Regions from separate parts of the Homo sapiens genome. Here all the other regions are reported to be linked to region 4. The links are microRNA targets in miRTarBase. Many come from high-throughput screens and were not tested one by one. Region 4 holds a microRNA gene; each other region holds the end of a gene's coding sequence.
What was found. Region 4 holds the annotated microRNA hsa-miR-519c-3p (AAAGUGCAUCUUUUUAGAGGAU, at 1,990-2,011, opposite strand). A microRNA usually pairs through its seed, bases 2 to 8, with sites in the 3' UTR of a target mRNA and lowers its output. Matches are read on the target gene's strand: a 7mer-m8 pairs with bases 2 to 8, a 7mer-A1 pairs with bases 2 to 7 and ends in A, and an 8mer does both.

Region 1 (4,077 bases), not on the chromosome of region 4:
GGACTCCAGAAAGTTCTGTCTAGGATTTTATTAGACTGCTTTTTTTCTCAATATACCTGTATTGGAAGATTGAGACAAAAAGGCACAAACTCACATTAAATAAACAAGGTAATCTAATCAATTCTACAAAGTGTAGTTTGTAAAACAAGTAGCACTAGGAACCAACCAAAGTAAGTCAGGGAGTCCCAGCAGGGACTGTAAAAGAACTTGGGAAGCTATACACATGCCCACGATACTGACCCTGTCCCGGACCTCTCTGCATGAGAAGGCCAGAGCCCAGCACCCCTCCTACAGAGGCACTGCTGCTTCTGTTGGGGCTGTGACCCTGGAATTCTGATGGAAGCAGCTGGTCTGAAGGGGCATGGCACACACTCAGGTACTACCCCTGGAGCTGAACCTTTATCATAAGTCCCTCTGAGTGCTAGTCAGTTTGGAGGTGGGTGAGGAGGAAAGGGGGTACTTAAAAGAAGCCAACACTGTTGCCCAGCAGCAACACCATCCGTGGGGATGGAACAGACCAGGGACATCCTCCTTTATGTTTATGTGGGCTGCAATTCCAGATCCAGGCTGACCTCAGCTCATAATGGATGCTTTTCAACTGGGGCAACAGGTGGAGGTGGGAGGAGCCCTTGTTAGGGCTAAAGTGATATGTGTGGGTCTCAAGAGCCAAAGGAAGGAGACTAACAGCTGCTGACCCTCAGACCACATAGACAACTGTCTGCCTAGAATGTCAGTTTGTTTCTTTCAAGATAACCCGCATCTGGACTTCCCCTAGTTGATGAATGAAGGAACATCTTTAAGCACAAATATAATGAATAGCTAACACAGAGCTTATAGGAAAACACTGACATTTTTCTCCAGTAGGAATGCCTCTTCTCCAACTTTCCAAGTCAGATAAATGCTACCAGCAGTTGAGATGCTACCCAGATGCATTACTAAAGACCCCTCAAGGTGAGGAGACTTACACAGAGGAAGGTGTCTGTAACAAGACATCTGGTTCCAAAGGGACCTCAATGAAGGTCAGCGCTAACCATGCTGGGGGTCTGAGTCTGTCCACCCTTGCCCCAGGAGGGCCACAGGGAAGCATCCATCAGGATGTCACAGGTGCAATCCTGTGAGACACTCCCTTATTGCACTTAGAAATGAGTAAGGCAAACAAACTGACAAAAACAGGATACATTCTCCCACCCACTTCTTGCTTCCCGGACAAAGATTTGGTCTCCCATTAGCAGATGCACCCAGGCTAGTGTGGGCTGGGATCACGGCACACTTAGGCCAACGTGCTTCACAAGGTTTGGGGAATGTCAGGTGACACTACAGCTCTCTCTCATTCTCCCACTAAGAGGCAAACTCAGGCTCTGTCAAGTTGCAGGAAGCTATGAACACTGGGCAGCGTCTGTTCCCCTGGAGCCTGGACTTCCTCACCAGCCTACTTTGGTCGGGTTCTGTACTATGATCACTACTTGCTTTGGGTTTTCCAGGGCAGAACTCAACATGGGGGTAGGACGAGCTAAGTTCTTGATCCCCAAATTCCTTTCCGGCAACTGGAGACGAGGGAACATGTTCTGCTGGAAAAAGCTTTTTGCATGCTCATATTGTGCAGCATGAAAGATCAGGACTCTTGCTTCCTAACCAGCCTCAAAGACAGAGGACAGGGACCTAAGAAAGCACAGAGAAAAGAGGATTATTGCTGAGTGGCAGCACCAGCCCCAAAGGGAAGAGGAGGAGCAGGGACTTACAGAGCTCCTCGGGGTCAGACAGTTGGTATCTAGGGGGTGACTCAATTCTAGGGGCCACACTGGACAATTCCCTCCAAGTGGAGAGTTGACTGGGGCGATTTTGTAGACTGCAGAGAGATTCAGAGCGGGCAACAGGAGGGCCAAGAAGCCACAGGTGTTTCTAAGAGTAGTAACTAGAGATTCAGTGATTGGGACAGGGTTACTCGTATTTGTTAAATTTTCTTAAATAGAGACTGGCTGAGCCTTGGGTACCTCCATAGTGCTAGAGTGCCCTAACGATGGGTTACTGGGAGCAGAAGTCAGAGCTGCAAAACCACATTGCTATTTTGTGGAAGCGGTGCGGGGCAGGGAAACATTGTATCTTTAGCTCATCCCCGCTCCCCACAGGAGCACTCAAAATTGCGAAGATCTTCCCAGGAAGCAAAATACCTCAGTTTACCCCAAGGTTGAGAACAAATGAACTTAAATCATTTAAATCACCACATCACAAAAGGCAGCTATTTGAAAGACTGAAAATGTCACTTGGAAATAAAGGTTGGGGGAACACACAGAAATGGATCGGAACACAATGGAGAGAGACGGAGGCGCTGTAACTACAGCAACCTACACGCCACGTATCTCGGAGGAGCAGGCTCCTGCACACGCGGGCTCTGTGACACCAGACGGTCTATTTGTTCACAATACTGAAGGGCATCTAGAATTAGCTACAGTAAGGAATCGAAAGTTGCCTGAAGAATGGGCACAGAACGGCTGCGTCCGAAAATGGCCTGTCACTTGGGAGGGTGGAGCTGCTGGGTCTTCCTGTTGACCACTGTCTTGCAAAACTAGAAGAAAAATGAAAGTATTAAGGAAGCAAGAGGAGAAAACAGAAACACTGTAAATCGTCCTGAATGGATAATTTCAAGAGGAGGAGGGAAGCCAGTGGGTGGGTGGGGAAGGGAGTGGGGGAGAGCACTGAGGCCCAGAGCAGTGACTGAGAAGCTGGCATCACAGCAGTCCGCCTCATTCCACCCTCCAGCCTCCCCGAGGCTGCTTTGGGAACATGGGGCAGGGAGAGTAAGCAGGGCCTGCCGTCACTCCTGGTGAGACCCTGGCCCTCCTTGCCCGTAGGGTTAGAGGCCAGCTTTTATTTGTAAAAATAATTTTCTCTCTGAGGCTAATTGGGAGCAGAGCCAGGTTTTTCATTCAGTGATTAAGACTGCTTTGAGCTGCTGGAATCCCATGACTCGGGTGGTGTACAGGGCACTGGGAAACCAGCACCGAGAGTTAACGGAAGGAGGGGGCTTGGGGAAAAGTGACAACATGAAACAAGGGGCCCCCAATCTGGCCCTGTGACCTGGGCAGAAACACCCTCCCAGCATCTGAAAGATGCCACCTCTGATGAGGGCAGCTTAGTATGGGATCGGGGGTATAAAGAAGGAAATGAAGCACCAGACAACAGTGGGTGCTAACAAAAGCTGTCTGGCCAGCAAGTTTTCCAAGGGGGAAGGGCAGGTAATGGCAGCTTTTGGGAGCTGGCGCTGGCGTGGGAAGGCCAGGGAGTGCCCAACATGACAGCTGCAACTTGAGATGGATCAAGCTGGCAGACAGGAGGAGTGATTCGCAGCAGATGAACTCCCCTTCTATATCCACCACCCCCTCCCTGTCCATTGTCTCTATCTGGGTGGTTCTTTGGAAAATGTCCCTGAAATGTCCCAAGGGCCATAATCTCCTAGTGGAAGTGGAGAGCTATCGAGCGTGGCAACCATCATTACTAGAGGGAAGGAGGAATAGGTTTTCTGACTCCATAGTGAGCTGCTGAGGCCTTGAAACCCAAACTGATTTTAGCGTCTGTGACACGCACAGTGAGAAATTTGGTACGTACAGTGCAGAGGGGAAAGGCGGCTTTAGTCATCTGCTGTCATTCCTTTCACTGGGTCCTTTTGTCTCATCTGGAACAAAAAAAGCAGGACAAATGGAAGGCTCCTGCTGCTGATGGAACTCCTGCCTTCTCAGTCCTGCCCATAGGTGGGGTGGGGCATATTTTGTGTAAAAAGCAAGACACTGGAAGGACGGAAGAATTCTGCATATGGACTCGAAGCCATACATTTCCAGATCTGTGTCACTGGTCTCACCATCCATGATTTCTAGTTCTCTCGTGTCACGGTGTTTGAAGCACCTTTTTTTTTTTTTTTTTTTTGGTAAAGAGGTGTGTGTGGGGGGGTCTTCCTATGTTGACCAGGCTGGTCTTGGGCTCCTGGCCTCACACGATCCTCTGCCTCAACCTCCCAAAGTGCTGGGATTACAGCATAGGTGTGAGCCACCACACTTGGCCCGTTTCATTCATTTATTCATTCAA
Region 2 (4,000 bases), not on the chromosome of region 4:
GAGAGGAGGATGGAGAAAGGGGAGTTGGAGGTGGGGGCTGCAGGGACCGAGGAGGCATGCTCTGGAGGGCTCAGAACAGAGAGAGCTGCTCTGACCTGGGCAAAGTGGCCAGCGACAGTAGTGTGCAACTAGGCTCCAAAGAAAACAATTTTTGCCATTTAGAGGTGTGGATGGGGGTGGGCATAGAATAATCCAAATAGTAGCTGTCTGGAAGTCATGCAGGGAGGCCTGAGAGTGGGTTCTCCCTCTGGCCACCCCCTTGAACACCTCTGAAAGTTTAGCAACAGCTTCTGTAGCTGGCTGAAGGATCCAGAGCTTATCTCAGGCAACTCGGGCAGACTGTCCCTGCAGGAAATACAGCTCTCTCTAACCCTCACTGACAGATTTTATGGCCAGATTAGCAAACAGCGGAAAACTTGGGTGTTAAAAGGGGCCCAGAGAACCCTCCTTTTCAGAGACATCCCTCCCCCGCCCCCCTGTCCTGCTGTGAATTTAACAGCACGGATATTTTACCCACGTCTTTGGCTGCTTTAGCTGAGCGCCTGGAATCTTCCAAAGAGAAGGATAGGGAACACCAAGCCAAGTTGGTTCTTATTTTTCTTGTTTGCAATTCCAGCTTCGAGCCAAAGCTCTGTTTTTCAAACTTAAGCTAAATTCTCTTTCTTGGCCTCTTTCCTGCTAGATAAATAACAACCCAACCCAGCCCCAGAGCCAAACATGGTGCTTCATCTAGTTATATCATTCAGAAAATGTTATTCAAGGAAGAAGAGAGAAAGAGAAAGAAAGAAAAACCCTTGAGCGTTATTTGATCCCAATCAAACTTTGCACGCTCTTATGCCTTTAAATTATAGCCTGACCCAATGCTAAATTGCTTGCTGCTTGGATGAGTCCAGTTAAAATCCTACTTGGTGGTGGGGAAGGGGGAGGGCGTAGAGTTCAGGTTGCTTTTTTATTGTTATTTATTGTTGCATAAAGACTATAATTACTAACCTTGGACTGCCAGGATGCAACATAAAAATGAAAATCAGCCCTCTCTTTAAGGCAGGGCCTGGAACGATTCTCACTCCCCCAACATCACTACCACCAAATATATGCTCCTAATTAAGCAATGCGGGCACATCGCTTACAATTAGAATTATGCAGCTCTTCAGCAAGCAGCCATCGCTTCTCTTTCAACGAATTAGCTCCATATTTCAGCCGCCCTGTCTTCTCGCTCTTATCGGCTCCAGCGACTCGGCGGTGACATTTCATCTTTGACAGACCTTCTCTATTTTCACTCCAATGTGATAAAACTTTTATGGAACCACAACTAAGAAATGAAGTTTTCCCAAGGATGATGGAAACAGAGCCGCACATTAGCCTGGGGACCGTTTTATTTACGCTTGGATCCAACAGCTTCTCCCACCCTCCTCTCCCCTTTCTCTGGCAGGGGAAATCGAACGTGCTTCCCCTCCCTCCGCCTCGAGTTTTATTTAGTGATTTAATTTTACTTAGTTTTAAAGTTTGACCTGAGAAGTCTAGGCCTCAGTTTTGTTTTTTTTTTTTTTTTAGATTAATCATTTTTCTTTGTTTTCATTTTAGACCCAATGGTGGTTGGGCTTCGGGTCACGTGACACCTTCTTTGTGGCTCCGGAAGAGGATTGTGAAGTTTAGGTTTCGTGGAAGAAACCGTAATCGGCCAGATTTTCTTGGTGGTGGTGGGAAGGGGTGGGGGGTGGGGGGTGCATGGACGCTGTGGCCAAAGGAGCTAACAGACGAAAGGTCAATGAATGAAAAACCTAGAGGCATACAGGCCAAACAGAAAAACCTACAGAGAGCATCCAAGAGTCCCCCGTTACCTCCCAACTTGCTACTTAAACCACAGCTGAAGAAGTTGGCAAAATGTTACAGGCTCTTATGAGTGAGAAAATGGTATTTAAACTTAAGACATATCAAGGGGGAGACAGGAACCTGGGCAGTGGACAAAAAGGCCAGGGAAGGGTCTTCAGTGTCCTTGTCCTTGTCCTTCTTCCCTTGGGGGAAATTTGGCAGTCAGCAGCCTTGCTCTGCTATCTAAATTGGACCACCAGGACAAGATAAAATTGATAACAGAAAGTTTATTCAAGAATTGTTTGACAGACAACCCTTTTAGGTAAGGAAAAAAGTAACTACTGAAGAACAAAGAAAGTTCCAAGAGGGAATTAACTCTAGTTCTACAAATTCAGGACTATACAGTGACGATTAGGAGCTGAGTTCATGCCTTTTAGAACTAATTACAATTGTTCGTAAGTACGAGTTTAACATAAATCTACAGCTCTTTTCTAGAGTACAATAGTAACTAAAATAGCTGGTTTTACATGACAGGAAACACAATGTCCTTTGTAACAGGTAAATACTAAAAAAGTACAATTTTTTCCTTTTTTTCCCTCATATAAATACATAATGTAGGGGGATAAATAATACAAAAAAGAAAATATTTTAACAGGCTATAACCAATAAATATATATGAAAATGTTCACTAGAACACACGCTTTTTTGAGCAATGCTGGACTTCTGCAGGCCCAGACATCTCTCACAGTTGTTTTTACATCCATTAAAATGTAAATTCTAAGTGCAACAAAAGTGTCCTGTCAGGAGGCTGAGCAAGGCACACAGGCCCTGCCCAGCCCCTGCCTGGGACAGTTTGTTCAAATATACCCTGTTTTCACGTTAAGTCAAGAGAGCAACAGAAGAAAAGTATAGAACCTCGTGTCACCAACTGCTTTCTGTGGAGAGGGGGATGGAGCTGGAGCTGAGATGGAGGCAGCAGAATGGGCAAACCTTCAGTCCTAACAACCTGCCTGCCCTAGCCTCCACACTTTTCCTTAAAAAAAAATGTATATAATTTATAATATAGGCAGCTCTTTCAGGATCTCTCACCATCCCTGAGCCCTCTAAAAACTGTAATTGATGGGGGTGGGATGTATAGATATGAATGTTCTAGAGCAGAAAAACCGGGGGCTAGAAGTGTACCTCAATAAACCTCAAATGGGAACAAATTTGAGGTTTTGGGAAAGTTGGAAGGGAACGTGTTTTGTGCCTTTTGGGTTTGAAATGTGTTTTCTTATTTTTTAAAGGATAATTGAGGAAAAAAAAAAATCAAGATTTGGGGGGAATTACCTACAAAGATGTAAGGTAAGTCCGTTGGTTGGTGATGGCCTAGCCATCTTGTCTGGTTTTTAAAATGTGCTTTTCTGCCTCGTCCTGTCTCGTCTTCCTCTACCCCACTCCCGGGCGTGGAATTCCAACTTGGTAGTGCTGGAGCCCTGGGGTTGATGGGGTCATCTCCAATATGATGTGGATTCCTTTCCGATGGGTTGGCAGGCAGATGGAACAAGGGGTGGAAGACTTAAAAGCAACCTCTCAGGCCAGGGGGAAGGGAAGGAGCTCCAGGCCGGTTCTGACCAGGAAGCCTGGGTACCACCTTCTCTGGCTCCTCTTTTCAGACCTCCAGGTTGCCCCCCAGAGCTCCACAGTCTCTCTCTTCCTCCCCATCCCCTAATCCTCGTTCGCCCTTTCCCATCACAGGTGTGTTAATTTGGGCGCTTCTTGGATTCTACCCTGAGGAGGAGGCGCGTGGTGAGAGGAGAGGTCTGTGTAGGTGGGGTGGGGTTCGCAGGGTCCGTGGTGCTGGCTGGGCGCCATAGGGGGCGCCCCGTTGTAGTCCAGGTTCCCGGAAGGGTGATGGGAAAGGTGGTTGAGGCCATAGAGGGAGGGGCCGGCAGGGGGCGGCAGCGGATCCGCGTAGCCGCCCCCGCCCACGTACACCGGACTGCCCTGCATGGTGGGCGTCCCGTAGGCGCCCCCGTTGGCTTGGAGGACGTGCGGCTCATACTCGGGCGCCGGGGTCGGAGGGTACTTCTGCGGGGCGCCGCAGCCTTTGAGAGGGGGCTGGTAGTTGGAGGGCAGCGCGTAGGCATTCTGGTGGGCTTTACCGAAGGCGGGTGGGGACGGGCTCTCGTAGCTGGGGGTCATGGAGTGT
Region 3 (4,077 bases), not on the chromosome of region 4:
GGAATGATGAAAGGTTCTGTGTCTGGCCCCAGTTCCTGACTAGTCATCAATCAACAAATATTTATTTTCTGCTTAACGGCTTGCCCAATGCTATACTAATGAAGTATTCTGGTCCTATCTCACATAAAACAAAGAACAAGCATTTTTCTGCTAAATATGTGAGCCTCTTGAGGGCAGGGCCCTGTTACATTCATCTTTGGATCCCTGCATTTGTAGTTGCTCAGAATGGTGCATGGATGAACAGATGGATGCAAGAACAAATATTCAGTTCCTACTAGGTTAGGGAGCTGTACATTGTGTATTTCTCATTTTAATTTTCACAACCAAAGATTAAGGTATTATTTCTGATACTCCATACCTTTTTACACACCTCTACCCTTCCCCAGAAAACTAAGACCATAACAGGTTAAGTGGCTTACCCAGTGCCTCATGGTTGTCAAGTGGTCAGGAGGAGTAAACAACAGGATAAGTGATCACCCAGAAAAGAGGATAAATTTGTATTCACTGCCATATGTTTAGCCTATGGCCAAAAAGGACATCTCCTTTCCTGCTCAGCCTCCTTGCCCTCAGCCCTGGAGAGGCCTTCTCTGTTCAGTAACCTCTCCTCCTTTTCTCTCTGTGGTATAGGTTGGCTATCAAGCAGGGAGCAATGGCCAGCCCCTTCCCTCGCAGTACATGAATGATCTGGACAGCGCCTTGGTGCCGGTGATCCATGGAGGGGCCTGCCAGCTTAGTGAGGGCCCCGTTGTCATGGAACTCATCTTTTATATTCTGGAAAACATCGTATAAACAGAGAAGACTTCATTTTTTTCTGTTCAGACTTGTTGCAACAGCAGTCATACCCAAATCATTTGCACTTTAAAACTGGAAGATTAAGCTTTTGTTAACACTATTAATGGGGTGGGGAATAGGGTGGGAGTGGGGGTTTGGGAGACGGGTGGGAAAGGGTGGTTGGGGGGACCGATGTTCCATAATTCTAAGTCTTCTATGCATTGTCCACCAAGAAGATCTGGGCAGCTTCTGTTCCTGCACAACAGTTATGCTATCCTTGCAGCTAATCCCCTTCTGTTACTGTTTAGACAAGAATTCCGCTCCTCTCTCAAGATTTACTTATGGTCATGTGCTCAGAAATGCTCAAATGGGTACAACCATCACCAAGGGTGGGATGGGAGGGCAGAGGGGAAATAAAATATAAAGCATCAGTTCTTGCACTCTTTGTACAGAATTGGTATAAAAAGGATAATTCCACACTGATCTTGTCCCAGTTACATCACAGCTGTTTATCAAGTAGAAGTCACACTTAGATTTTTGTTTTTACCAGATTATTCATTGAAGTGAATCGAAGACTCAAGGGCTTAATCTACTCTTCCAGTTTCGGAAGGGCAACTCAGTGTAAATGTCATGTGGAGAGCAGAGGTGAGTTCAGGATTGCTGGAGATCTGCCCGTGTGGATGGCAGGTATTCAACTGGGTATTTCTGTGAATGCTGATGGAATACACCCAGGACATTTTTAGTTATAAATACTGGAGGAATTTAAAAATACATTTTATTGAGAAATAATTTAAACTTCTAGGAAGTTGAAAGTACAAAAAACCCCACGCACACTTTACCCAGATTCCCCTCTTGTTCACTTATTAACATTTTGTCCCATTTGATTTGTCAGGGTTTCTCTCTCCCTTTCTCCTTCTCCATAAAAAATTGAGGCATTTGAGAGTAAATTGCGTACATCATAGGCCTTTCCTCCTAAATGCTTATTTCCTAAAAATAAGGATATTCTCTTACACAACTGTAGGACAGTTCTCTACTTCAGTCAAACATGGATTTGATACTTTAACCTGGCATCTGCCCAGTGATGTTCTTTGTAGCATTTTTTCCCTCCAGTAAACCTTCCAGTATAGAATCAGACATGGCTATGGCTGTCATGACTCATCTTGATCTTTTATGTCATTGATATGTATTTTTTTTGAGACGGAGTCTCGCTCTGTCACCCAGGCTGGAGTGCAGTGGTGCAATCTCGGCTCACTGCAATCTCCGCCTCCCAGGTTGAAGCGATTCTCCTGCTTCAGCCTCCGGAGTAGCTGGGATTACAGACGCCCGCCACCACCCCCAGATAATTTTTTTGTATTTTTAGTAGAGACAGGGTTTCACCATGTTGGCCAGGCCTGAGCTCAAGTGATCCGCCATCCTCTGCCTCCCAACTCCTGATCTCAAGTGATCCGCCATCCTCTGCCTCCCAAACTGCTAGGATTACAGGTGTGAGCCACCGCACTCAGCCTCATTGATATTTTTGGTGAATGTAGCCACCCCCAACCCCACCCTGTTTTTTTTTTTTTAACAGAAAACAACTCAGTTTGATATTTCCTCATATTTAGAATCAGTTTATGTGTTTTTGCCCATAATGACTTGATATCCATCTGCCCCCTCATTGATAGTGGTAAATTTTGATCACTTGGTCAAGGTGTCCAACTTCTCTGTATATCCCCCTACCTGGAACTTATAACCAGTATATGTAGACTTTCAGACCATGCAAATCTCTTGCCTATGAAAGTGTCCCGTTAAATTAGCATGCATTGATGTTTCTTACCTGCACTGATCTTTTACTATGTTTGCAAAATGATTTTCCAATTCTAGCGCATTCTCCAGCTTTACAGGTTGCACTTGGTAATCTACTATAAGCAGAAGCCCTTCCTTCCCAATTTATTCATTTAATTTTCATTATACACTCATGGACTGTTGTTTTGCTTTGTTTTGTTTTGAAACAGTGTCTCACTCTGTCACCCATGCTGGAGTGCAGTGGCACAATCTTAGCTCACTGCAGCCTCAAACTTCTGGGCTCAAGCAAACCCCCCACCTTGGCCTCCCAAAGTGCTGGGATTACAGGCATGAGCCACCAAGCCTGGCCTTTTTCAGTGGTTCCAATTCATTATTTTGGTGCACAAATGGTCTCAGCTTTAGCTAGACAAGAGACCCTTCAAGCTGGCTCCTACATCCTGGTGATATGCTATTTTTTTTTTTTTTTTTTTTGAGTACTTCTTTTTTATTTCTATCCTAACAAGATGCTTCAGGCTTATCTTGTGCTTATCCTGCCCTAGCCCTGGAATCAGCTATTTCTGCAAGGAGCCCTGGCTTCTTTTAATGGGAGTGGTATTAGAAACCAAAATCTGGTTTATCCATGATATGTGTGATGCACTCTGACCTTTTTCTGTTTCATTAAAAATTTATTTTGATCTTAGACCAAATGGATTCCACAATGCACATTTTGAAAATACTGCTTTAGGGCAATGTACTCCATTGTCACTGGCATCTTCTGAAAGCCAAGGCTAAACTAGTTTTTCTGCAGTATTAGTACAGCTCCAAGAATTCCCTGGAAGCTAGCGCAGGCCTGTGGGACAGCGACAGGCTGCTCCCCAGTGGCTAGTGCTGGGTTTAGCACGAGGCAACAGCAGGCTGTGGAGCTGTGTTTGCGGCAGCAGCTGTTTTCCAGAGGCCTAAAGGCCTGGCCTGGGAAACATCTGGGTAGGTTCATCCTGCTCTCTGAGGTGGGAGCTTATAGTCGACATCTGCCTCTCCAAAGGTTTTACCGACGGTGGTTGCACAGAACTCTTACTGTGACCTTTCCCACAGGCTCAGAGGTACTCAGAGCTTCTAAGGGGAAGCTTGGCCCACAGAGCAGCAGCTTGTCAGGACCGAGCCCTGGTAACCACTACCTCCAAACCTGACAAGAACAGGAAGCACTTGTTAACAGGGGCAGCTTATTTTTGGTCTAATAGCCAGCTTTGTCTGAACATACCTCAAAAGTCTGGAACTTCTACAGGGACTGGTCCTGTTTTCCTGTGGTTTATCTTCCTGCTTGCCATTGTACTTATTTATTCTGGTTCAGTGCAAGCTTTTAAATTCTCCCACTAAGGACAAACTCTGGCCCTCAGATCCTTTCTCAGCTGCATCAAATGTCCTCTGTGTTTAGTAAAATCATTTGTGGAATTGGGCATAAAATAGCCAATGATAGTTAATTGTTTTCCTTGTTTATCCTTGCTTTTATACAATGTATATTGTAAGAATTATATAAAGCAAGGGGCT
Region 4 (4,077 bases):
CTCTTCTTTCTGACAACAGAAAGCGCTTTCCTTTGTAGACTCATAGCTTGAGATCTTCTTGCTCCAGCACTCTGGGTTTCGTGTTGGAATTTTCTTTGACCAGGTTTAAATGGACAGAAAAATAAAGATGCATTTAGTGGCCCTGTTTGCATGTTTTCTGGAATCCAGAATAAAACGCCTGAAAAGGACCATCTCCAGTTCCTTGCTTCAAAGGCTCAGCAGGTTAGCCTTGTTCATCAAGGGACAATCCTCCCGAGTTTTGTTCTCAAACAGAAAAAGCAATGCCTACTAGACATACCTTATACTTAACCAAGAGAATTGGACTGGATTTCCAGAGAACAGCAAATGGATTCTGAGCCAAGTGTTCATTTGAGTTCCAGTGCGGAGACACACAGTCCCATTGGAAACATCCAAAATGTGATCTAAGATGTTGAACTATATACATTGTCGCACACACAAACATCCTCCAGGATAGACCACAGGCTAGGTGGTAAAAGCTCCTCAATAAAATTTGAACAGGAATACACAAGTACCAGTTGGGTGTGGTGGCTCATACCTCTAATCCCAGCACATCAGGAGGCCAAGGCAGGAGATTCACTTGAGCTCAGGAGCTCAAGACCAGCGTGTACAACACGGTGAAACCCTGTCTGTAAAAAAATACAAATGTAGGCCAGGTGTGGTGGTACATGCCTGTAGACACTAATTCAGGAGGCTGGGGTGGGAGGCGAAGGTTGCAGTGAGCCAAGACTGAAACACTGCACTCCAACCTGGGCGACTGAGCCAGATCTTGTTGCAAAAAAAAATTTAAAAGAACACACAAGCAAAAACCACCCCAAAGTGATATCAGTCATCTCTGTGTGTAGAAGAGTATTTTTTGTGTATATAATTATATATATGGCTATATGATGAAATATACATCATATATAATATATATATACACACAAACACACCCATATATATATTTTTTTTTTTGAGACAGAGTCTCTCTCTCTATATAAATATATATGTATATATATATTTTTTTTTTGAGACAGTCTTATTCTCTCGCCCAGGCTGGAGTGTGGTGGCGTGATCTTGGCTCACTGCAACCTCCATCTGTCCGTTCAAGTGATTCTCCTCCCTCAACTTCCCCAGCAGATGGGAATACAGGCGTGCGCCACCATAGCTGGCTAATTTTTTGTATTTTTAGTAGAGACAGGGTTTCACCATGTTGGTCAGGCTGGTCTCAAACTCCTGACCTCAAGTGATCCACTCGCCTCAACCTGCCAAAGTGTTGATATTGCAGGCATGAGCCACCGCTCATGTCGTATACACACAAAAACTGCTCATATACTCATGCGCCTGGCTGTACATCATTTATTTTCCAGACCCTATCTCAAAAAAAAAGAAAGTTCCATATACTGTATGCTCACATAAAGAATTACTCCTACACATAAATGTTTGCTCCACACATAAGAAATGAATGGAGTGACAGAGATCACCATGGCCCCTGTGCAGAGGTGATGCCCAAATTCATGATGGGTCTCATATTGAAAATTAAGATCAAAGGCCGGGTGCAGTGGTTCATGACTGTAAACCCAGCACTTTGGGAGGCCGAGGCAGGTGGATTACGAGGTCAGGAGATGGAGACCATCCTGGTCAACACGGTGAAACCCCATCTCTGCTAAAAATACAAAAATTAGCCGGGCGTGGTGGCATGGGCCTGTACTCCCAGCAACACAGGAGACTGAGATGGGAGAACCACTTCAACCCGGGAAGGGGAGATTGTAGTGAGCAGAGATCGTGACCCTGCAAAGAGGACCACCTGAGCCCAAGAGAGCTAGGTTGGAAGTGCCACTGCTCTCCAGCCTGGGCAAAAGAGACCCCGTCTTAGAAAACAAACAAACCAGGAACAAAAGCCCACCCTCATCCAAGTCTGATGATAAGCACGCTCTGCAAATGTATTGCCGAGATCAGCATGAACGTTAACGTTGCTTTTCTCAAACTGTAATCCTCTAAAAAGATGCACTTTCTTTTCTTTCAGACAACAGAAAGCGCTTCCCTCTAGAGGGTCACAGGCTGAGATCTTCTTGCTCCAGCACCATTGATTTTTTGTTGGAATTTTCCTTGACCAGGTTAAAATGGACACAAAAATAAAGATGCATTTATTGGCCCTGTTTGCATGATTTCTGGAATCCAGAACATAAACCCCTATCAGGGCCATCTCCAGTTCCTTGTTTCAAAAAGCAATGCCGACTATACATACCTTATATTTAACCATGAGAATTGGGCTGGATTCTAGAGAACAGCAATAGATTTTGAGCTAAGTGTTCACTCGAGTTCCAGTACAGTGACACACAGTCCCGACGGGGGCATCCAAAATGGAATCTACGATGTTGAAGAATATGCATTGTCACACACACAAACACCCTCCAGGAGAGACCACAGGCCAGGCTGTAAAAGCTCCTCAATAAAATGAGCAGAAACACACAGGTACAGGTGAGGTGTGGTGGCTCACACCTCTAAACCCAGCCCTTTAGGAGGCTGAGGCAGGAGTATCACTTGAGTTCAAGAGTTTGAGACCAGCCTGGGCAACATGGTGATACCTCATGTGTAGAGAAAACAGAAAAGTTAGCCGGGCGTGGTGGTGTGCGCCTGTAGACAGCTACTCAAGAGGCTGAAGTGGCAGGTGGAGGTTGCAATAAGCTGAGATGGCACCACTGCACTCTAGCCTGGGTGACAGACCCAGACCTTATCTAAAAAAAAAACAAAAACATACACACACAAACAAAAAATTACCCAAAGTGATACGAGAGTATTCTCTGTGTATAGAAGAGTGTTTTGTGTGTATATGACTATGTTACATGTATAATAAGAATATGATAAAATATATATTTTTGAGACCGTACATCAATAAAAATTAAGTTCCATATACTATGTGCTCACATGAAAAATAATTCCTACACATATGTGCTTGCATTGGCAGCACACATTAAAAAAAATTGGAGGCTAGGCTGGGTGGCTTACACCTATAATCTCAGCATTTTGGGAGGCTGAGGCAGGCGGATCACCTGAGGTCAGGAGTTGGAGACTAACCTGGCCATCATGATGAAACTGCATCTCTGCTAAAAATGCAAATATTAGCCAGGCGTCGTGGCACGTGCACCTGTAATCCCATCTACTTGGGAGGAGAGGTTGCAGTGAGCAGATAACATGCCACTGCGCTCAAGCCTGGGCCAGAGACAGAGACTCTGTTTCAAGAAAAAAAAAAAAAGCAAGCACGGGACCACTTGAGCCCAAGAGATCTAGGTTGGAAGCGCCACCGCACTCCAGCCTGGGCAACAGAGACCCCATGATGCAAAACAACTAAACAAAAACAGAACCCCAACATCATGCAAGTCTGATGATAAGCACGCTCTGCAAATGTGTTACCAAGATCAGCATCAACTTCAACGTGGTTTTTCTCAAACAGTAACGCTCCAAAAGAAGGCACTCTGCTTTCAGACAACAGAAAGTGCTTTCTTTTGGAGAATGACTGCATGAGATCTTCTCGCTCCAAAAGTCTGGGTTTTTTGACGGAATTTTCCTCACCTGGTTAAAATGGACACAAAAATAAAGATACATTTATTGACTCTCTCTGCATGTTTTCTGGAATCCAGAATATAAACCCCTAAAAGGACCATCTCCAGTTCCTTGCTTCAAAGGCTCAGCAGGTTAGCCTTGTTCATCAAGAGACAATCCTCCTGAGTTCTGTCCCCAAAGAGAAAAAGCAATGCCTACCACACATACCTTATATTTAACCATGAGAATTGGGCTGGATTTCTAGAGAACAGCAATGGATTTGAAGCCAAGTGTTCACATAAGTCCCAGTACAGGGACACACAGTCCCCATGCAAGCATCCAAAATGGAATCTAAGATGATGTTTAAGAATATACACTGTTGTACACACATTCTCCAGGATAGAACACAGGCTAGGCCATAAAAGCTCCTCAATAAATTTTTTTTTTTTTTTTGAAACAAGTCTCACTTTGTTGCCCAGGCTGTAGTGCAGGGCCGTGATCTCAGCTCACTGCAAGCTCTGCCTCCAGGTTTCCAGC
Region 5 (4,074 bases), not on the chromosome of region 4:
CATAAAAGAACTTTTAACATATGCTTTATTTTTGCCTTAGTACCAGCACTTGGAAGTATATGTGCATGTACAGATACTCATATACACAGAGGCAGTCCAAAAAAATAGTATATTTATTATTTTATTTATTCTGGTAGACCCCAATATTCTCAGCATGCTCTTATGTTTTATATACTATAGACTCATTGTCTGTATGTGTGTACTTTTTGAATCTCATTTTCATTTATAAACATGAGATTTGCAGCATCACACAGGGACAAAGTTTATGCTCTGGTTTGTTTTCCTAGACTAGATCAGATAATACATCTTAAATAAAATAGAAGAAAAGCATATCACATATTTAAACCATTAATGACAACAGAAAAACAGCAAGGAAAAAATCCCTGGCCTCAATGCTATTGATTAGTGAGAAAATAACTGGGTATTTTGTAGCATTACACTAGAAAATCATGAAAATTGTGGTTACTGAAAAAAAAAGGACTCAATATGTTAGTATCTCACTCAAATGCTTTTAAAATTTATATCATTTAATTGAAAAATGCCCTGAACATTCTTACTTCCTTTTTGTGTATGTGAACATTTTCTTCTTCATTACAGATTTCCATCATTTGAAACTTTTAATACAAAGAACTGCATAGCGTATAATCCAAATGGAAATGCTTTAGATGAATCCTGTGAAGATAAAAATCGTTATATCTGTAAGCAACAGCTCATTTAAATGTTTCTTGGGGCAGAGAAGGTGGAGAGTAAAGACCCAACATTACTAACAATGATACAGTTGCATGTTATATTATTACTAATTGTCTACTTCTGGAGTCTATAAAATGTTTTTAAACAGTGTCATATACAATTGTCATGTATGTGAAACAATGTGTTTTAAAATTGATGAAATTCGTTCACCTACATTTGAGAATTATAAAATTAACATAAAGAATTTTGTATTTTCATTTAATGTATATATTTAATGTTAAATTCAATGTAGTTTTATTACACATTTATGTAATTTTATTTACATTCTTGCTAATTCTCAGCAGAAATTTAAATAAGATTTAATTCACATCAAATAAAATTTAGAAAATAAAATTTAACTCACACTGCCCAGGCTGGAGCATAGTGGCAAGATCATAGCTCATTGCAAGCTCAAGTGATCCTCCTGACTCAGCCTCCCAAGTAGCTAGGACTGCAGGCACCATGTCACTATGCCCGACTAATTTTTAATTTTTAATTTTTTGTCAAGACAAGGTCTTGCTATGTTGCCCAGGCTGGTCTTGAACTCCTGGCCTCAAGGGATTCTCCCACCTTGGATTCCCAAAGTGCTGGGATTATAGGTGTGAACCACCATCCCTGGCCCTCTTCACATTCTTGTATGAAGATTGATTTGGGAAAAATGCATTTCAGGTAACTGACAAAAGATATAGGATGAAAAATAATATCTTTCAAATGTTTAATTTGAACTAAGAGAGCTTATGCATTGCACTTTCTGGAGATTTGTAATGTTTTGGTTTTGTTGTCCATGTGACTACAAAATAATATATTTTTTAATTAAAAAATTTAAAATAATACAGGCAAGCATGTAATGATTATCAATATTTTTTTCCACCAACTATCCTATACCCCTGACCTCCTTTCATTAGGCATTATCTTCTGTTTTGATTTTAACACTTAGAGTGGTTTTCTCTGTTATGAATCAAAGCTGATCTATTTTCATCATTTTTGTGATGAAAAAATTAATTTTGATTGACTTAGGATGGAAGGATTTGGACTGGGTGTGGTGGTTTATGCCTGTAATCGCAGCACTTTGGGAGGCCAAGGCGGGTGGATCACTTGAGGTCAGGAGTTTGAGACCAGCCTGGCCAACATGGTGAAACCCTGTCTCTACTAAAAATACAAAAATTGGCTGGGTGTGGTAGTGCACACCTGTAATCCCAGCTATTTGGGAGGCTGAGTCGAGAGGATCGCTTGAACCTAGGAGGTGGAGGTTGCAGTGAGTCGAGATTGCACCACTGCACTCCAGCCTGGGTGACAGAGCCAGACTCCTCTCCAAAAAAAAAAAAAAAAAAAAAAGATGAAAGGATTTGGAACCTTAATTGCATCTGAAAAACTGCCTCACCTTTGTTATTTAGTGTACTCCAACCACGGAGTAACATCCCATCATAATCCCAAATCCTACTCAAACAAAAGGGGAAGGGATTATGCAGGTGTACACTAGGCCACTGGTGTACCAATTAGAAACCACTTTAGAGTTATGCCTACTGTACCCACATAATCCTAAAAATATGTTACAACTGCTACTTCATAGTTTATGCCACTTATTTTATTTTTTACTTTTATTATTTTTTTTTCTGAGACACGGTTTCATTCCCATTGCCCAGGCTGTAGTGCAATGATGCAATCATGGTTCACTGCAGCTTCAACTTCCCAGGCTCAAGGGATCCTCCCACCTCAGCCTTCTGAGTACTTGGGACTCAGGTGCGAGCCATCATGCTCAGCTAATTTTTTGTATCATTTGTAGAAATGGGGTTTTGTATTGTTGCCCAGGCTGATCTTGAACTCCTGGGGTCAAGGATTCTGCCCGCCTTGGCCTCCTAAAGGGCTGGAATTACAGGCATAAGCCACTGTGCCCGGCCAGTTTATATAATTTAAACACTGCCTTTTGGTTCCTTGATTCCCATATGCTAGGACAAGTAATTATTATTTTATTTTATTTTACTTTAAGTTCTGGGTTACATGTGCAGAACCTGCAGGTTTGTTACATAGGTATACATGTTCCAAGGTGGTTTGCTGCACCTATTGACCCATCATCTAGGTTTTAAGTCCCACATGCATTAGGTATTTGTCCTAATGCTCTTCCTCCCCTTGCCCCCCACCCCCCGACAGGCCTTGGTCTGTGATGTTCACCTCCCTGTGTCCATGTGTTCTCATTGTTCAACTCCCACTTATTAGTAAGAACATGTGGTGTTTGGTTTTCTGTTCCTGTGTTAGTTTGCTGAGAATGATGGTTTCCAGCTTCATCCATGTCGCTGCAAAGGACATGAACTCATTCTTTTTATGGCTGCATAGTATTCCATGGTGTATATGTGCCATATTTTCTTTATCCAGTCTATCACTGATGGGCATTTGGGTTGGTTCCAAGTCTTTGCTATGGTAAATAGTGCTGCAATAAACATACGTGTGCATGTGAGGACAAGTAATTATTTTCTGTTTTTCTCAATACATTAATTATTAGTTCCTCCGTTAGTTGTGAAGTCCTAATTAGGGAAAAGGAGTTAGGCTGGCGGGAGCAGGGAAAAGCAGAAAGAGAAAGCAGATAAGCTATGAGTCTGCCTTTCTTCATGGTCCAGGATATGGGCCATGTGCTAAACTATTACCAGACACCTGCAAGTTACCTCACCGCAACCTTGGCATTATCAGTACTGGACAAAGCCCTCTGCAGCATACAGCATAAACACTATTCCATAAAATCCTAAGCAAGCCTTTGTTTCTTTGCAGTCAGCTTTTCTTCTGCTGATGCTGCCTGTTGCCTCCCTGGAAACATATTTTCCTACTTTTCTTTAATAAATCTGCCTTCCTTTACCTACAGCTGTCTTGGTAAATTCTTTTACCTCAATGCCACCGGCCCAGGTAGCCGTTGCTCACCCACAACATTAGTGTATTAGTCCGTTCTTATGCTGCTACTAAAGATATACCCAAGACTGGGAAATTTATAAAATAAAGACATTTAATTGACTCACAGTTCTGCAGGGTTGGAGAAGCCTCAGGAAACTTACAGTAATGACAGAAGGGAAAGCAAACACATCCCTCTACGCATGGCAGCAGAAAGGAGACGTGCTGAGCAAAAGGAAAAATACCCTCTTATTAAATCATCAGATCTAGTGAGAACTCACTCACTATCATGAGAACAGCAAAGAGGTAACTACCCCCATGATTAAATTACCTCCTACCAGTTCCCTCACATGATACGTGAGGATTAGGGGCACTACAATTCAAGATGAGATTTGGGTGGGGACACAGCCAAGCCATATCAGTTAGTGACATCTGTATTCTCATATTGCATGCATAAGAAAGTGAGTTATT
Region 6 (4,077 bases), not on the chromosome of region 4:
TTTGAAAGAGAAAGCAGATTCTGCCGGAGTTGTCATAAGGAGTTGCTTATAAGATGTAGACGGTTCTGCAATCCAATGGGTTCCTCCTTGGGCGTCACCCCCAGAGTCTGCCTGCATCCCATGTTCCCTGGCCATACATGCTGATCTTGGCGGGTAGAGTTCCCAGCTAGTCCCTTCTGAGGCAGGCTGGACCCAGGTGGGGCCCCTCCCTTTTATATGTCTGTTGACAGGCTCCTCCACCTCACTTCTGGGGGTGCTATTTCAGGTGGCTGGCTGCAAGATGCCCTCAGCAGAGCAAAGTCGGATTGCCCAGCTCCTCAGAGACACCTTCTCTTCAGTGCGACAGGAGCTGGAAGCTGTGGCTGGGGCAGTGCTGTCCAGCCCAGGCAGCAGCCCTGGGGCTGTGGGAGCCGAGCAGACACAGGCCCTGCTGGAGCAATACTCAGAACTGTTGCTTCGAGCCGTGGAACGGCGTATGGAACGCAAACTCTGAGTTCTGGAAGCCTGTCCCAAGTGAATGAATGCTCCAGCGATTCCAAACTGCAGCCCCTCTGCCCCTCACCAAAACCTGCGGGGCTGCTTGGAGTGGAAAGCAGGGAGCAGTGTTCAGAGGCAAAGCAGCCTTCCCAGCCGCTCCTCGTGGGGGGCCTGTATTTATTAATTTATTTCCCTGACTGTTGCCTCACTTCCTTGGAACTCCTGCCTCCACAGCCCCTCCAGTGGCAGGGACAGGTCTTGGGTCTTTGTCATCTTGGTGCTGTGAGAGGTAGGAGGGCAGCCTGCCCCATCTAGGAATCTGGGAAGGGCTGGCCCTCTCTTAGAAGCCATTTGAAATTACTGCAGGGATTAGCTCCCTGTGGTGGAGCATACACAGGGTACTCTGGGGTCGAGGTGAGAGGTGATGTGGTATTCAGTGCCCGTCAGCCAACTGTGGGCCTTCACCTCTACCTGCACTTCCCCTCTCACACCAGCTGCACTCCCGTGGCTGCCAGAGCAGGGTGGTTTTCCCCAATACCTGGAGCTCAGAAAGGCAGAGCCATCTGGCCCTCCAGGGTGTCCCCAGCCATCAGGAGACTTGAGTTGGTATTTGGACCTGAGCCCGCACATTCCACTCCCATTCTCCCTCCAAGAGGGGCCCAGCATTGTATTTCCCTGTGACCCCTTACTCTCCTGGCCAGAACTTGAGCCAGCTGTGGGATGTTGCTGCAGGACAGTAAGCCCTCACCTGGGCAAACATGAAGCTCTGGCCTCCTTTCCTCAGCCCCTTGTTCTTCCCTGTCCTCCACCCTGGACCCCAGCCGGCTGCTGGAGCCCAGAGGCCACCTTCTCCCTGCATCCTGAATGATGCTTAGTCAGAAGCCTGTGTTGGAACATCCCTCGTTTACGGGGCGCTGGCCTACCTCCTGAGGACCTCAGCCACAGATGAGATCACACGCATGCACGTGCACACATGTACACACACACACCTACCTGCACAGCACGCTGTTGAGTGTTGGTTGCTAGAGTATCTGGCTGGCTGCTGTGTGCCTGGTTTCCTCACATCCTGCCTCAGCTTCACCACCCTGGCTTATGTGGAACACCTATCAGGGAGCAGAAAAGGGGTGCAGTACACTAAGTGAACCCAGATTCTGGATTCTTGGTGTCCACAGCCTAGCTGATACGAGATAGCCCATAGGACACCTGGTTTAGGTAGAAGGAGCCTCCTCAAAGGCAGTGCTGGGCACCCACGGGTGTGCTGGATACTGGAGTTTGAGAGGAGGGAGGTGCTGGGGCCAAAGGAGACACTAGAAAAGTGGTAGATGGGACAGGTAAGTGGCAGAGGTGAGGGGATAAGTTAGAATGTAAAAGGGCAGTAATTAGGGGTGAGGGAAAGGAGATAGGGGACCCTAGGAGGTAGAGTGGGACCATGTCGTGAGGCAGTTGAAGAGTTGAGGAAAGGTTTTTCTGGGCCCTACTGCTCCCCTCTGCTGCAGGTAAGTCAGAGCAGCTTTACCACAGCTTCAGGCCACGAGAGCCCCTTCACCCGCCCTGCTGCGCCATAGGCAGAGGCTTATAAAGAAATGGGTTCTGGGCCAGGTGTGGTGGCTCAAGCCTGTAATCCCAGCACTTTGGGAGGCCGAGGCGGGTGGATCACCTGAGGTTAGGAGTTCGAGATCAGCCTGGCCAACATGGTGAAACCCTGTCTACTAAAAATAAAAAAATTAGCTGGGCGTGGTGGTGGGCGCCTGTAATCCCAGCTACTCGGGAGGTTTAGGCAGGAGAATCGCTTGAACCCTGGAGGTGGAGGTGGAGGTTGCAGTGAGCCGAGATCGCGCCATTGCACTCCAACCTAGGTGACAAAGCTACACGCCATCTCAAAAAAAAAAAAGAAAAAGGGTTACAAAAGGTTCCCAGCTCCGGGGCATCAGCCTGAGTGCGCTTGAGCTGCTCCAAACCTGGCCCTTCCCCACTCCTCTAGCATCGCCACCCGCATGGCCCTGGAACTCCCGCGGCGGCGGGGGCGGGCCCGTGCCTGCTGTGCCCCGACTTCCCACACCAGCCGCGCCCACCGCAGGTGGGACTCAGGTTCGCCCTCTGGGCCAGGTCCTTCACGAGGAGGGAGCTACCCTTCGCCAGAAGTTTGTGAGAATGTGGCCGCCCTTTTCCTGCCCTCTGCCCCATGTGGGTGGGGGGCCTCGTGGCCCGGCCGGCGCCCCGTCCCCTTCTGCATGTCTGAGGCCACCGGCAACCGCCGCCCCACTCCAGATTTGCCCCCGCCTTGTTTTGAAAGCCCCTTATTTATAACTTTTATACTTTGTGCAGGTCGCGGCGCTTCCTGCCTCATCCTCGGCTGCATGGGGCGGGGGCGCTGTTTTTAACGTGCCCGTTTGTACTGATGTATGAACTTGTCAATAAACACAATTGTTTGTTAACCCTGGGATGCCGGCCAGTGGGGCAGGCCGAAGCGGGCGCTGCCAGTCGCTCCACCGCTTCGGTGGCAGAACCCGGTGTGTGTCCAGGGGCAGGACGGGGCGGGGTGCTGGGGGTGTGGCCTGCGGCGGGTGCCTCTGGAAGGGCGGGGCGAGGGTCTGGGGGTGTGGCCTGCGGCGGGGACTCTGGGGAGGGCGGGGCGAGTGCTTGGGGTGTGGCCTGCGGCGGGGCGTCGGGGAAAGGCGGGGTCTCGGCCGGCGCTGACGCAGCCATGGCGGAGGCGGCTTTGGAAGCCGTGCGGAGCGAGTTACGAGAATTCCCGGCCGCTGCAAGGGGTGAGTGGCTCTCCCACAGGCTGCGGCGATTTCCGAACACGGGAGGGGCCCTGGGATGCCGCTGACACCGGGGGCTCGGAACCTCGTGTGTGCGACTGCCCTGAGGCCCCGCTCGGGTTGCTCTTCTGTGGCAACCTGCTTCCCTTCTCCCGTGTTCGCGCGCTCCCGCGGCTTCCTGGGTGATTCTGTTCACGTTGTTCCCAAGGCCCGGTGCCGTCTTGACCGTGGTCGCGGCGAAGCCCTGTGTTTCCTACAGTCTTGAGCAGCTTGCTGTTACCCTTGTTGAAAGCTCATCGAAGGCACACAGCTGGTGGTCGGATTCCTCCCCCACGCGCCCCACCTCCGACCTCAACTCCCTTGTCGCACTTTGGGAGGATTGCAGGCTGACCAAATGGTCCCTGGCTCTTCCCCTGCTTGGTTTTTATTCCTTTTCTTTCTTTCTCTCTTCCCTCCTTCCTTCTTTTTTCTATTTTTAAATGATTTCTTACCACTGAACAGCAACACAGGCTCATGTGTATGTGATGGGTATGTAATATACAGTGGTACGCAATGTAAATGAAGCAAGGTTTCCTCCCAGCCCCAGTTTGCATTCTTACAGAAAGATTGTTTATATCCGTGCACACACGACTTTTTACCCTTTTTTTGTACAAATAGTAGCCTGCTAAACACACTCTTCTGCACCGTGTATCTTGGAGATCATTTCACATTCCTCTACCTCAGTCTTTTTCACGTCTGTGTGCTAGTGCTGTATTCACTTAGTCATTTAGGTCATGTCCAATCCGTTGTTTTCAATAATGCTGCAACGAATACTTTGAGGATTGATTTAACAAAT
Region 7 (4,075 bases), not on the chromosome of region 4:
CCTGTCTTAACTTCTGCTGAACCCCCAGGATGTTTCTTAAGTGGAAAATTCTAAGAAGCCTCATAAAAACATATAAAATAATCTTTTGATTTTTTTTTCATAACTTTGTTACAATTGAAAGTGTTTAAAACATGTGCAAAAATTACTGTTGACTGATTTTGGTATATTTTTAGGGATGCCTCTTTAATGGCAATGAGACGGCGTATCAATGGCTTAAGTCCAGAAGAAATCCGTGCACTTTCTAAAGAGGAACTTCAGATGCCTGTTACCAAAGGAGACTTTGAATTGGCCCTAAAGAAAATTGCTAAGTCTGTCTCTGCTGCAGACTTGGAGAAGTATGAAAAATGGATGGTTGAATTTGGATCTGCTTGAATTTCTGTCAGCTCTTTAATTTCTGGTATTTTTGTTGATAAAATACGAAGAAATTCCTGCAATTTTTAAAAAACAAGTTTGGAATTTTTTTCAGTGGAGTGGTTTTCGCTTAAAGGAAAAAAAAATCTAAAACTGCGAAGAATACTAAATGTAGTTGAGAAATAATTGATGGCGAGAGTTTGCTAGTCTCCCTCCCCGGCTTTGTGCTGGTATTCCACGTATTCCTGCATTAATATTGCACACCCAAACCAGTCTATCAGGGAGGCTGAAGCAAGGGCGCAGTGTGATATTTTAGGAATACAGAAGATTTAGAAATACCCCTATTTCTCATTTGCAGTTTTTTTTTCCAATTCTGTGCTCTGTCAACATGAGGGACCTATCTATGTATGTTGACTTTTAACATCAAAATTGGATTTGTGTCAAACATTCATTGTTAAGAGAAGAATGACAGTATATTTTGGAGGAAATAATGAATTTACTAATTAAACCTTTAGAATTTATGACTTACTGTTAGAGTCTGTCATATGGTTAGAATTTTTACTTCCGCTACCCCTGCCATTTCTTCTGCTAGCTACTTCATAATATCTTGAGCTTTACTGAGGAATATTCTCACGCTCTGTGGTATTTGAATCATTTTGCCAGGTCATTTCTCTGTCTTTAGTATTTTTTGCTGGTGCTTCTTACATTTAATATGGAAAGGTGGGAAGAATATTACTGCATTAGATGTAATTCTTCATTCTAGACTTCCAAGTTTGTTTTCACTTTTTTGTGTGTGCGTGAAGGAGTCTGTGTCACCCAGGCTGTGTAGTGCAGTGGTTGATCTTGGCTCACTGCAACCTCTGCCTCCTAGATTCAAGCAATTCTCCTGTCTCAGCCTCCCAAGTAGCTGGGATTACAGGTGCGCACCACCATGCCTGGCTGTGTTTTCACTTTTCTTTCAACATGTTCAACCAGATATATAGCCATTATTTTTCTCAGCTCCAGCATTGTTTGATTTTTCTTGAGTTTGATTTTAGTATTTGAGATAAATACTTTTACATTCTAAACAAGTCCACTCTCTGTGGCTAACGCAAAACAAATGAAATCTTTATTGTTTTCCAAACAGCTAGTTTAACAAAACAGCATCATACATAGTGAATGATGTTCATTGGAAAATTCTAAAATTTGTCCTTGTCTAGGTTGAGAACTTTTACACACACTAAGATAAAGATAGAAATCTGACATGCTCACTCAATTCAGCAGGAATTACACATTAGAAAGAAGCCAGAAAAATAAATGGCATATATCCAATCACAAGTAAATGATCCTGGCGTTAGTTTTTATGATTACATGTGTCTCATTAGGCAATTTATGCTTTAATGGTCAAGCTTTTAAAAATTTGTATTTGATAACATCCTGAATTCTCAGTTTCGAATAGTGCCTACTGGTTTAAAACTAAAAATAATACAGCTTTTTGGACATTTAACCAAGATACTAAGAAGGTTTTTTTTAAAAAAAGAGATTTGATTATTTTTCCCTGCTAAAAACTGTAAATGCCTTATGTTCTTTTCAGATAACTTAAGTCTGACCTAAACTCCAGTATTCATCTGATGCTGTAAATTGCCCTTCTTTCTGAGACACAGATTATAAGATGCCAGATCATAAGACATCATGATTTTATTGTAATTGAATTCTTCCTAAAAATTGAGAGGTTTCCTTTTATTAACTTTTAAAATAAAGAAATAAGTAGTTTCATTACGATTATTTTGCAAACTATTGCCAGTCAGAAATGCACTTTTTTTTTCCCTGAAGTTTTAGGAGCCGTCACTAAAACATTAGTCTTGTGATTGTTAAAACTTGTTTGTAATGGGTTGGTGCAAAAGTAATTGTGGTTTTTCCATTACTTTCAATGGCAAAAACCGCAATTACTTTTGCACCAGCCTAACAATAGTTGATTAGTTAGACCTTTTCTGGGTTTTGTATTGATTATCTTGGTGTGCATTTAATTATTTTTCTGAATTCTTCATGGATAATGACATAGTAATTGTGATTCTTTTAATACCAGTTAAGCAGTATTTGGCAACTTAAACTTCCTGGGAGCCTAACTTTACTATGTTAAGTGAGTCAGGTGTGCTTTTTATTTCCCTTGTTTCTCATTTTGCCCTGTCAGTGGATGGTAGATGCTTTGTATATCTTAAATCCCTTAAAGGATCTTAAAGACATCCCTCAGGTGTTCTATTTAACTTTTATTTTATTTTATTTTATTTATTTATTTATTTTGAGACTGAGTCTTGCTCTGTCGCCCAGGCTGGAGTGCAGTGGCATGATCTCGGCTCACTGCAACTTCTGCCTCCCAGGTTCAAGCCATTCTCCTGCCTCGGCCTCCTGAGTAGCTGGGATTACAGTTGCCGCCACACCCGGCTTATTTTTTTGTATTTTTAGTAGAGGCAGAGTTTCACCATGTTGGCCAGGCTAGTCTCGAACTCCTGACCTCAGATGATCCGCCCACATTGGCCTCCCAAAGTGCTGGGATTACAGGTGTGATCCACCGCACCTGGCCCTAACTTTTAATATACAACACACACACACACACACACACACACACACACACACACACACACACACACACACACACTATTTCAGAAGACAGTGTGTTGCCTTACCCAGAATGAGTGCTAGGATTACAGGCGTGAGACAGACACACATACACACACATACACACACACAGAGTCTTTATTGCAGAAGACAGTGTGTTGCCTTATAGGCGTGAGACACACACACACACACACACACACACACACACACACACAGTCTTTATTGCAGAAGACAGTGTGTTGCCTTACCAGAATGAGTGCTTGGATTACAGGCGTGAGCCACTGTGCCCAGCCCTAACTTTTAATGTACATCACACACACACTCACACTCACATACACACACACACACACACTCTGACTGTCTTTATTGCAGAAGACAGTGTGTTGCCTTACCCAGAATGAGATTGAATTGTTTTGCTTCGTTTTGTTTTGTTATTCAGTGTTGCGGTAGCAGATGCATTATCAAAGGAAAAATATTTGGCTCCTTTAATTCCTCTGAAAACATGAGTATTTTGAGTTCTGCAGCACAATGACTGTAGGACTAAGCTAAGTCTGCTTTGCAGATATCTGATCAGATAGTCCCTTCATTCTGTAGACGTGTATTGGTTGGTCCAAGACACAGTGAGTAGGAGCTCTGTGGACCAAGACAAAGCTGGACTAGAGAGTACAGTTCAAACTTGGCAGTTTCTCTAACGACTCTGTATAGCTTCTGGCTTCTACTACTGAAACAAGAGTTTAGATCACTGATGGAGAGGCATAGTAATCTGTTTGTGCTTTGGAAAAATATATAAAAGTTTTTTTCCCCTATTTTTTGCACTTTAAATCTGTTTTGAAATTAGAACTGATATACATTTATTTGAATAATGTGTAACTATTATGGATCTATTTTAATGAACAATTTTTACCATTTCCCAAGCTGCCTGTTTATTATAAGCATGACATGTTTACTATAAACCTTTTGCCCCCATAATTTCTTTTTTTAAAGGAAATTAATATTAGTAAAATAAACACCTCTTTAATGGAAGCTGCAACCTTCTAGTGATCCAAGTAGACAATAGATGGTGGCATCACAGACTTTATCTACACACTTTCGGGTCTGACCACTACCTCCCACAATACCTAGCCATTTT

Region 1: the mRNA of PITPNA is a reported target of hsa-miR-519c-3p. The part of its 3' UTR that is shown has no 7-base or 8-base seed match.
Region 2: miRTarBase lists HOXB3 as a target of hsa-miR-519c-3p. Seed matches in the 3' UTR shown: 8mer at 2,588-2,595.
Region 3: the mRNA of ZFYVE9 is a reported target of hsa-miR-519c-3p. Seed matches in the 3' UTR shown: 7mer-m8 at 853-859.
Region 5: the mRNA of KLRD1 is a reported target of hsa-miR-519c-3p. Seed matches in the 3' UTR shown: 7mer-m8 at 1,473-1,479.
Region 6: the mRNA of MAPKBP1 is a reported target of hsa-miR-519c-3p. Seed matches in the 3' UTR shown: 7mer-m8 at 950-956.
Region 7: miRTarBase lists KATNAL1 as a target of hsa-miR-519c-3p. Seed matches in the 3' UTR shown: 7mer-m8 at 2,142-2,148 and 7mer-m8 at 3,758-3,764.

Annotation. Positions count from the first base shown.
Region 1 is chr17:1,517,976-1,522,052 of GRCh38, forward strand. PITPNA (phosphatidylinositol transfer protein alpha) reads right to left here. Exons shown (of 12, transcript NM_006224.4): 11 at 3,604-3,670; 12 at 1-2,563. The coding sequence ends at 3,626. PITPNA-AS1 (PITPNA antisense RNA 1) reads left to right here. Exons shown (of 2, transcript NR_028514.1): 2 at 1-121. Among named protein-coding and RNA genes, the nearest start is that of PITPNA-AS1, 3.1 kb to the left of the region's middle.
Region 2 is chr17:48,546,794-48,550,793 of GRCh38, forward strand. It overlaps HOXB3 (homeobox B3), which reads right to left. Exons shown (of 5, transcript NM_001384749.1): 5 at 2,077-4,000. The coding sequence ends at 3,541. HOXB-AS1 (HOXB cluster antisense RNA 1) reads left to right here. Exons shown (of 7, transcript NR_102279.1): 4 at 1,582-1,670; 5 at 3,096-3,153; 6 at 3,547-3,609. Among named protein-coding and RNA genes, the nearest start is that of HOXB2, 3.7 kb to the left of the region's middle.
Region 3 is chr1:52,345,433-52,349,509 of GRCh38, forward strand. ZFYVE9 (zinc finger FYVE-type containing 9) reads left to right here. Exons shown (of 19, transcript NM_004799.4): 19 at 628-1,202. The coding sequence ends at 789. Among named protein-coding and RNA genes, the nearest start is that of CC2D1B, 19 kb to the right of the region's middle.
Region 4 is chr19:53,684,456-53,688,532 of GRCh38, reverse strand. MIR519C (microRNA 519c) reads right to left here and starts at 2,064; the gene lies at 1,978-2,064. It overlaps MIR515-2 (microRNA 515-2), which reads right to left and starts at 3,524; the gene lies at 3,442-3,524. All of the region lies in intron 2 of LOC107985342 (a long non-coding RNA gene), which reads right to left. MIR1283-1 (microRNA 1283-1) reads right to left here and starts at 52; the gene lies at 1-52.
Region 5 is chr12:10,314,076-10,318,149 of GRCh38, forward strand. KLRD1 (killer cell lectin like receptor D1) reads left to right here. Exons shown (of 6, transcript NM_002262.5): 6 at 598-4,074. The coding sequence ends at 718. Among named protein-coding and RNA genes, the nearest start is that of KLRD1, 8.2 kb to the left of the region's middle.
Region 6 is chr15:41,824,944-41,829,020 of GRCh38, forward strand. It overlaps MAPKBP1 (mitogen-activated protein kinase binding protein 1), which reads left to right. Exons shown (of 31, transcript NM_014994.3): 31 at 266-2,912. The coding sequence ends at 493. JMJD7-PLA2G4B (JMJD7-PLA2G4B readthrough) reads left to right here and starts at 3,149. Exons shown (of 25, transcript NM_005090.4): 1 at 3,149-3,245. The coding sequence starts at 3,182. JMJD7 (jumonji domain containing 7) reads left to right here and starts at 3,149. Exons shown (of 8, transcript NM_001114632.2): 1 at 3,149-3,245. The coding sequence starts at 3,182. RefSeq lists enhancers at 819-1,701, 2,747-2,976, 3,008-3,302 and a silencer at 3,037-3,126.
Region 7 is chr13:30,204,837-30,208,911 of GRCh38, reverse strand. KATNAL1 (katanin catalytic subunit A1 like 1) reads left to right here. Exons shown (of 11, transcript NM_032116.5): 11 at 174-4,075. The coding sequence ends at 372. Among named protein-coding and RNA genes, the nearest start is that of LINC00385, 53 kb to the right of the region's middle.